Linked DNA regions of Homo sapiens. The protein of the gene in region 3 purifies or fractionates together with the protein of the main gene of each other region. This does not show direct contact. Each region holds a gene or a part of one and is shown on either strand. Other genes may lie near its edges. The genes, in order: NDC1, ANKRD22 and AAAS.

Region 1 (3,658 bases), on a different chromosome or scaffold from region 3:
AAGTCCTCAGCTAATAAGAAGGGGGCCAAGATTGTGGACATCAGCTTCTGGTGAGAATTATATATTTTTTAAGATTTTAAATGTCATGTTGCAGAGGATCAGACAGCCTAAGTTCTTATCTTGCCTTTTCTTTTTTAAAAATAGATCAGCAAATGACTGAATTTTCTAATCCTTCTCCATCTACCTCTATTAGTGCTGAGGGTAAGACAATGAGACAACCCAGTGTGATTTATTCATGGATTCAGAATAAACGTGAACAGGTAGGATGATATGGTTATAGGATTTATATTTGCATGTAAAATTGAGAACATTAAGGATCTCACATGAGTAAGTCATCAGGAATAAGAAGCTTTTTTTTTTTTTTTTTTATGCTTCGTGTATTGACTCAAATGAAACAGCCAATATTTGACTGGTTTGAGCTATACACATTGTAATTTCATATGACTTGACCTGATAACTTCATGTAAGAAATATTTGAGTTCTTTATATATCCAAGGTGTGCTTTTAGGCACTGGGAAAAAAGCAAACAAAACAGAGTCCTTGCCCATGTAATATTTACATTCGAGTGAGGGGAAATCAGTGAGTAAGCAAATGTATTATATTCTGTTTCTCTGAAATATAAAATATCATTAATTATAAGACTTATGTGCTATTAAGAAAAAAGATGCCTTAACCCATGACGTGCTATTGACTGTAAGATGCATCTCAACAGGTCATATTCAAGATATGGAAAACATGCATAAGAAGGAAGAAATTTGATATAAGTCTTAACTAGAAAAACAGAGCAAGGAAGACAGAGAGTTCCTAAGGGAGAGGGTATCATTTTATGTGGAGTGATAAGGGGAAGTCTCATTGATAAGGCAATGATTGATCAGAGACCTGAAGGGAGAGCTGGGAGCAGCCCAGTGCATCTGAGATGGGAATGGCCTTGGCTTGTGTGAAGAACAATGTGGATACCAGTGTGGCTGGAGCAGAGTGAGTGAGGGGAGAGTGGTAAGTGGGTGATAAGATCAGAAAGGTAGCAGGCACCCAGGGCTCATTGGCTGTAGTAAAGACTGGCTTCATCTCTGAGTGGGATGGAAAGTCACCGTATGGTCTTGCCCACAAGAATGATATGATGTAACTTATATTTTGAAAGTGCTGCTCTAGGGGCTGTGTTGGGACTAAACTCTTGCAAGGTAGGCATGTAAGCCCAGAGACGGTGTTAAGGTGTTAAGTAATCTAGTGGGAGATGGTGGTATCTGGGACCAGAGTGGTAGTGGTGGGGGCTGTAAGATGTGGTCAAGGTCTAGGTATGTATTTTAAGTTAGATGGAATAGGATTAGCTTATGGTTTGGTTGTGGTGTATACTAGAAAGAGTCAGTGTTCACTGGTAAGGTTTTTGGCCTGAAGATCTGGAATAATATAGTTGCAATTTATTGAGTTGGAATTTACTGATGATTCTGGAGAAGGAGATTTGATAGAGGTGAGGGGAGGGAAATCAGGAGTTTGATTTTGGACAAGCCAATTTTGAGATACCTATGAGACAACCAGGTGAAAATACTTAGTAAGAAATTAGGCATATAGCGGTAGTGTAGGGGAAAGTTCTGGGCTAGAAATGTAACTTTGGAAGTTTTCAGAGTATAGATAGTATTCAAAGCATGAGACTCGATGCAAACTCTTGAATGTAAATACAGAAGAAAAGAGATATCCAAGAAAGGGGCCCTCCAATGGCTAAAAGTTTGGGAGATAAAGAATAGCAACAGAGACTGAGGTGGGTAGAAATCCAAGAAAAGAAAGAGTTTCAAGGAGGAGAAGGTGGGAGTGTCAGATGCTGCTGATGGGTAGCATGGGGCGGGAACTAAGAATTAACTGTTGAGCTAGAAATGCGGAGGTCACTGAGTCCTTGACAAGAGCTGTTGGCTGGAGTAGTGGGGACAAAAAAATGCATGAGTTCAGGAGAGATTGGTAGACGAATTGGAGACCACAAGAAAAACCACATTTTTCAAGGAATTTGTTGTAAGTGGAACAGAAAAATGGGGCAATAGCTGGGAGGAATTGAGGGGTCAAGGAACTTTTTTAAAAATTTTGAGATGGGTTCTTGGTCTGTCTGTTGCTCAGGCTGGAGTGCAGTGGTATGATCATGGCTACACTGCAGCCTTGAACTCCCGGGCTCAAGTGATCCTCCCACCTCAGCCTCCTGAGTAGCTGGGACTACAGGTGCCTGCCACCATGCCTGCCTAATTTTTTTAATTTTTATTTTTTGTAGAGACACAGTCTCTATGTTGCCCAGGCTGATCTCAAACTCTTGGCCTCAAGCAGTCATCCTGCCTGAGCCTCATAAAGTGTTGGAATTACAGGCGCGAGCCACCACGCCCAGTCATGTTTTTATTTTTTAAGATGGGAGAAATTATAACATGTTTGCTGATGGAATGACTGATTAATAGGGAATGAATGGTTAAAGGCATTTCATAAACTTCGGGATCCCATACGGCTCTATATGCCATTAGTACTGCCGTGTCACTTTCTACCCAACCAGACACGTGCTGCTTGCTGCAGCCTTCTGACTAGTCATGCAGCTTTGGGTGAGAGTATGGTAGGAGCAGATTCACTTTTAAGTTAGTTGGGTTAGCTTTTAGCTGATACTAAGAACACTTTTTCCCCCGGAATTGTCAACTAGTAGAAAACTACTTTGTGTCTTAAGATATTTTTTTTCCTGTAATCTCAGCACTTTGGGATGCCACAGTGGGAACATTGCTTGAGCCCGGGAATTCGAGACCAGCATGGGCAACATGGCAAAACCCCATCTCTACTAAAAATACAAAAATTAGCTGGGTGTGGTGGTGCATTCCTGTAGTCCTAGCTACTTGGGAGGCTGAGGTAGGAGAATCACCTGAGCCCAGAAAGCAGAGGTTGCAGTGAGCTATGAATGTGCCACTGCACTCCAGCATGGGTGATAGAGTGAGACCCTGTCTCAAAAAAAAAAAGATTTTTTTTTCCCTGTGAGAGAAACATACTCTTTTTTTGGGTATTAAAAGGTTAAAGGGCAGGACAGTTATAGAGAATCGAGAAATAATGTGGCCTTGAAAAATATCTCCAGTCTGTAATCCTAGCACTTTGGGAGGCTGAGGTGAGAGGATTGCTTGAGTCCAGGAGTTTGAGACCAGCCTGGGCAAGATGGTGAGACCCTGTCTGTACAAAAACATTTAAAAATTAACCGGACATGGTGGTGTGCCTGTATTCCCAGCTACCCAGGAGGCTGAGGTGGGAGGATCTGTTGAGCCCAGAAATTTGAGGTGGCAGTAAGCTGTGATCATAAAACTGCACTCCAGCCTAGGTGACAAAGCGAGACCCTGTTTCTGAAATAAAAAAGAAAAAAGAAAAAAGAAAAAAATTTCACCAAAACCACTTAGAATTAATTAATTTTTTTTTATGTCAGGGCTCTAATTTGGGGGTTAAACGTGTATACATGGGAATACAGTTTAGTTGGCTCATCTTGGTTGTCCAATTTGTAGCACAAAGGTATTTAGTTACATGGCGTATTGTTTAAGTATTATTATTCTTTGCCCACAAGATGTGAAGTGTTTCATTTTTTCATTTAAGTTACTGTCTGGAAGAACTAGGAAATGTGTTATATTTGAATAGAATTTAAAAGGTAAATGTGTTAATTCTTCCTTTT
Region 2 (3,658 bases), on a different chromosome or scaffold from region 3:
GTAAATCTCTTTAAAACACCTATTGTTTTTTCTATAAGCCATATTTTTGGAGCACTAAAGTAAAATGGCAAATTGGGACAGATATTGAGGTCTGGAGTCTGTGGATTATTGTTGACTTTGACAAAATAAGCTAGACATTTTCACCTTGTTGCCACAGAGACATAACACTACCTCAGGAAGCTGAGCTGCTTTAAGGACAACAACAACAAAATCAGTGTTACAGTATGGATGAAATCTATGTTAAGCATTCTCAGAATAAGGCCAAGTTTTATAGTTGCATCTCAGGGAAGAAAATTTTATAGGATGTTTATGAGTTCTCCAATAAATGCATTCTGCATTACATAAAGCATGTATGTGCATTTCAGTGTCTAGATTCTAGTCCAAGCTTGTTGGAAGGTTTACAGCTTGTTGCTAGGAGACCTAATGACTAAAAATTTCTGGCTCAATTTTCTGCCTCCAAAAATTAAAAGCTAGGGAGAAAATTGCATAATGTCATGAGCATGATGAAACAAATTGTCATATACTTTATCCTTTAATCTTGACAAAGTTAATGTCAGACAGTCTCTGCAACTCATTGACAAACCATGATTTATTTCTTCAGAAAATTATTCCACTTTTACACAATTTCAAAGATGACAGTTGTAAATTACATTGGTACTATTTTGCAAAATCTCTGAAACCAAATCAAAGGTTTGTGTGTGTCAAAAGTATATTGTTGAAGGTATACTGGTGTGTGAAATTCACTTGTGTGGGTTTTTTGTCCCCAAGGGTCACCTGGTAGCTCAGCTCAATGCCAGTGAATCTTAATTTATTAAGACACGTTTAAAGACTTCAGAATCTATATCTACACACTATTACTTCCTTCATAAAATAAGTTTCTTAAATCCTGTACACAGTTGAATATATATTGCTGGATTTGATTTTCATTAGAGCTTTCAAGGATGGTAAATCTTTCATTCTTATACTGTACTTGTTACCACATACAAAGAGGCTGGCTTAGTTCCTGTCTGCAGCTATGTGAGATTCAGTCTTGATTTTCAAAATTCAGTCATATTTTTAAAGTGAATTTATTTCTACTCTGTGTCATTCACAGAAGAAGTGAGACAGATATTTTGATATTCGCAATCTCTCACTTAGACAAATAATCCAGATCCTACCTCATTGTATAGCTCTGTTTCTTTTGAAGAACTTTATCCAAATAAGTTACAATAATATTTTACATCTATCAATAAAATAAACAAAACTAACAAGCTTGGCAACCACCTTGTATTTACAAAAGGATCATGAAGATTTTTTTAAACGAACATTTTCATAGTTGCATAGTCTTGCTCAAACCAAGATGGCTTTTATTTGTAAACCGAAATCTCTAGTGGTATGCTGGTAAACGAACTTTATGGAAAGTAAAAAACAAAAAAACAAAAACAAACTCTGATTTGTCAATTTGCCAATTTCTGTGGTGTAAACACACTCACCGCTGACACTTGATAGATGTTTTTATTGAAATTCCTTCACCAAAGGAATATTTACTTGTGAATCTCTAAGCCCACACACATACACAAATACCATTCTGTACAAACATACGTATTTAATAATTTGATTCTTCTGCTCAATACTCAAAGGGGGCTGGGAGGAACAGTTTGTCTCCTAGGGCATGACATAGACTGGACAGTCTTTTTATAAGAGTGATACAACTGGGAAGGGAGAACGCTGTTTCAGAAGATAACTCAGATCCTCTTCTTCAGGAAAGACTGAGTTTGGAACACCAGGGCTTTTTTTTTTTTTTTTTTTTTTGAGACAGGGTCTCGCTGTGTTGCCCTGGCTGCTCTCAAACTCCTGAGTTCAAGTGATCCTCCCACCTCAGCCTCCCAAGTAGCTGGGATTACAGGCATGTACCACTGTGCCTAGCTGAAACATCAGTTTCTGACTGAAGTGGAGACTACAACAACTTTAGTGTTTCCCTTAGAAGGATTACGGCCATGGTGAACTTGACTGAGTAAACAATGCTATAAATAAAAAGCTCTTCCAAAACATTAACCATGGTAAGCATCATTATCCCCATAAAATGGTGGCATCCAGGTTAAATGGCCCACAGACCAAAAGTCTAAAATGAAGATAGAATCCAGTCGTTAACTTTTTCTGTATCTCCATCGGTGTGGTCACAAGGATTACAATGCTTTCCTTAGCATTAATTCAATCTGGGAAAATTTTAATCTCCGTGCAATATCCAGTGAGCTCTCACCATGCTGAGGGGGGAAAAATATACAGTTATTTCCAATAGAGTGCCCAAGATCTCGTACGTAGCTTAGACCAATTGACTCTCTGTGTTGGCAAGGGCTTTAAAAGGCAATCAGTCCTAATAGTAATAGGATAACTTCATTCCTTAATGAGGATGATTAATTTTACTGTTGTTTACGTCAGAGGCAAATAATTTACTTCAACATAAGGCCTAGATTAGAAGATGCTGCTGCTAGAGGAACCTCAGACCACGGTCCACCCTCCCTTACCTTATTCTTTATTGTGGGGTCTGCACGGGCTTCCAAGAGCAGAGGGATAAGAGACTGGTTTTTCATTTCACAGGCATAATGTAATGCGGTACAGCCATACTGAAACACAAAGGGCCAAAACTTCAGCTCATAAGTCGGGCCCTCCACAGACCATAGCATGTGGCTTCATTGGCAAATCCTTTTCACACTTTGTAGTATACAACTAAGCAGAAAAATAGTCTGCAAACCATTGATAGACAACTATTTCTAGTACTTAAAAAATTTTTCGCCGGGCGCGGTGGCTCACGCCTGTAATCCCAGCACTTTGGGAGGCCGAGGCGGGCGGATCACGAGGTCAGAGGATCGAGACCGTCCTGGCTAACACGGTGAAACCCTGTCTCTACTAAAAGATACAAAAAATTAGCCGGGCGCGGTGGCGGGTGCCTGTAGTCCCAGCTACTCCGGAGGCTGAGGCAGGAGAATGGCTCGAACCCGGGAGGCGGAGCTTGCAGTGAGCCGAGATTGCGCCACTGCGCTCCAGCCTGGGCGACAGAGCGAGACTCCGTCTCAAAAAAAAAAAAAAAAAAATTTCTTCTCTGTCTCAATGTATATGTATGTTAGTGTCATATAAGCCATCAATCTCTGCCTTTTTGTTTTCCATTTTCTGTTCTAAAGAATGCAACTTAAAAAAGCTGATGCTGAATTGTGCCAAAGTTTCTTTGTCGCATGCTATATGCCTCGGTGATCATCACCTTGATCATGTCACCATCTTTCCCTTAAAGAGTCTCCACATGGCCCTTTACATAAACATTATCCTCTATGGTTTTGGTGATGATTCCTACTGAAGAAGTCGGGTGCTCTTGCTGCAGGACACCTGCAAGATCAGTGCAGTTCTACAGAGACATTTCCCAAACGTGATTTGTTATAGCTTATATTATGTGTTATAAGCTAGTGCATCTACTCTGTTGGTACTAATTTAAAACACTACAGGTCAAAAAAATTATAGCTAGGGCATTAGTGTCCAAAATTTGGCCTTTGGAAAAGTAGCCAAGCAACCATGGTGCTGGTGAGTGAAGAAATAGTACCTTTGGCTATCAAGACAGGTTTAGCTCTGGATCCCATTCCCTAGAAACACCTCTAAAATTATAGGAGATCATGTTGCAATTATTTATTTT
Region 3 (2,483 bases):
AACTGGCCTGTTTTTTGGTTTTTTTAGAGATGGGGTTTCATTATGTTGCCCAGGCTGGAATACAGTGGCTATTCACAGACTCAATCATTGCACACTACAGCCTTGAACACCTGGGCTCAAGTGAGCCCCTTGCCAAGTAGCTGGGACTATAGGTGCGTACACCACGCCTGGAAGGTTGTTGGTTTTTTTTGTTTCTACTAAAAATACAAAAATTAGCTGGGTGTGGTGGCGTGCGCCTATAATCCCAGCTACTCAGGAGGCTGAGGCAGGAGAATTCACTTGAACCCAGGAGGTGGACGTTTCAGTGAGCTGAGATAATGCCATTGTACTCTAGCCTGGGTGACAAGAGCGGAACTCGATTTAAAAAAATTTTTTTAAATAAATGAACAAAAAACAAGGCCAGGCGTGATGGCTCATGCGTGTAATTCCAGCACTTTCGGAGGCTGAGGCAGATGGATCGCTTGAGCCTAGGAGTTTGAGACTAGCTTGGTCAACATAGATGCTGTCTATACAAAAAATAAAAATAAAAAAACTAGCTGGGCGTGGGGTGTACGCCTGTAGTCCTAGCTACTTTAGAGGCTGAGGCAGGAGCCTCAGGACTTTGAGGCTGCAGTGTGCTATGACTGTGTCACTGCACTCCATCCTGGAGTGTGAACCACCATGCCTGGCCCAGGAAATATTTTTTACAGCATTATGTATAATAAAAAATTACAAACAAGTCAAATGTCCATTTGTAGAGGCATGACTCAATAAATTATAGTTCATCTATTGAGTGGTATACAATGGAGCCACTGAAAAGAATGAGATGAATCTGAACCCACCTGCAAAGGCAGCTGTGATTTATCATAAAGTTCAAGAGAATTAAATTGTACATCCATGACTAAGACTTCACTGGAGCTGAAGGTGGTTATAGTTAGGTGGAAAGAGAGGTGGCATTAATTCAGGTAGTAGCCTTCGTCTGTCAGGCCAGGCACATGGCTCTGGAAATACACAGCTGCAGACACATGGCAGGTGCCCTCAGGTAGTTCCCTGCTGGTGATGGAGGCCGAGCCACATGCTGCATCTTTTTTTTTTTTTTTTTTGAGACGGAGTCTCGCTCTGTCGCCAGGCTGGAGTGCAGTGGTGCAATCTCGGCTCACTGCAACCTCCGCCTCCCGGGTTCAAGCAATTCTCCTGCCTCAGCCTCCCAAGTAGCTGGGACTACAGGCGAACACCACCACGCCCAGCTAATTTTTTTGTACTTTTAGTAGAGACGGGGTTTCACCATGTTGGCCAGAATGGTCTCGATCTCTTGACCTCGTGATCCGCCCACCTCGGCCTCCCAAAGTGCTGGGATTACAGGCGTGAGCCACTGCGCCCAGCCTGCAGCATCTTTATGATAAGGAGCAAACGCGGGAGCTGCAGAGTTGGGAGGTACTTTGATAAGGCAAGGCAGGAGGGCTGTTTGGGAGCACAGGATGTGTTCTGAGGAGTGTTAGATAACTGGAGAGAAAAGGTTGGAACCTTGAAGTAATGTCATAGATTATTAATCCTGGATAGATGGATGGCCAGGCTGGATGGCCTGTGGGCAGAGAGCTGTGTTCTGGGGTAGGGCCTGATATCGCCCCAGGGGCAGTACCTTCTAGGTTACTGGTTAGGTTTTGCCTCATGGCCTATCTCGTGAAAGCACTCTTTCACCCTGGCCTGAGACCTTGCAGATTACCTCTTCTCTGTTGACCTGCTCGTGGTGACTTGGTCGTTTTTCCCCTTCGCTGTTTTTTTCTTTTAACTTTCACAATCCTTATTCCTTTTTCACAACCTGGATTTGAGCCCAGAGTGGGCCATCAGGATAGGAGGTTTTAGCAGGAGGCAAAGAAATAGAATTTTGGGGATGGCTTCTTGTCATCTTCTGACTCCACATCCTCTGTGTTCCCCTCCAGACCCTCTTCTGGCTGTGCCCAAGTGCTGTCTCACCCTGGGCATACACCTGTTACCAGCTTGGCCTGGGCCCCCAGTGGGGGGCGGCTGCTCTCAGCTTCACCCGTGGATGCTGCTATCCGGGTGAGTGGGTCCCTGCCCCTCATGCACATTTCAGTCCTGGCAAAAGTGTTCCTCACTCGGTTGTGGAAACATCTTGGGGGAAGGAGGAGGGACCTTGGTCCATTCAGTCTTAAACTTACCCAGAGAGGAGCTTTGCCATCAGACTCGTGAGGTTTAAAATTCCGCTGTCTGTAATTGTCAGCATGAACCCGTGCCTCATGTTTCACAGTCCCTCTCCCGCTTCCTCTCGTTTCTGGCTCTTTGTACATTAGAGAGGCCAGCCCACTGTGAGATGATGGGGTGCTTGAGTTTTCCCTTATCTCCTGCCCCACTCTCCTAGGTATGGGATGTCTCAACAGAGACCTGTGTCCCCCTTCCCTGGTTCCGAGGAGGTGGGGTGACCAACCTGCTCTGGTCCCCAGACGGCAGCAAAATCCTGGCTACCACTCCTTCAGCTGTCTTTC

What was found.
Region 1: the proteins of AAAS (region 3) and NDC1 purify together in Homo sapiens (affinity purification with mass spectrometry; one large-scale study listed by BioGRID and IntAct). This does not show direct contact.
Region 2: the proteins of AAAS (region 3) and ANKRD22 purify together in Homo sapiens (co-immunoprecipitation; one large-scale study listed by IntAct). This does not show direct contact.

The regions. Positions count from the first base shown.
Region 1 is NC_000001.11:53,793,291-53,796,948, reverse strand, and holds part of NDC1 (nucleoporin NDC1), read left to right. Parts: coding exon 1-50; intron 51-144; coding exon 145-260; intron 261-3,658. UniProt on the Homo sapiens protein: Component of the nuclear pore complex (NPC), which plays a key role in de novo assembly and insertion of NPC in the nuclear envelope.
Region 2 is NC_000010.11:88,820,776-88,824,433, forward strand, and holds part of ANKRD22 (ankyrin repeat domain-containing protein 22), read right to left. Parts: intron 2,604-3,658; coding exon 2,505-2,603; intron 2,244-2,504; coding exon 2,166-2,243; 3' UTR 1-2,165.
Region 3 is NC_000012.12:53,309,158-53,311,640, reverse strand, and holds part of AAAS (aladin), read left to right. Parts: intron 1-1,919; coding exon 1,920-2,040; intron 2,041-2,359; coding exon 2,360-2,483. UniProt on the Homo sapiens protein: Plays a role in the normal development of the peripheral and central nervous system.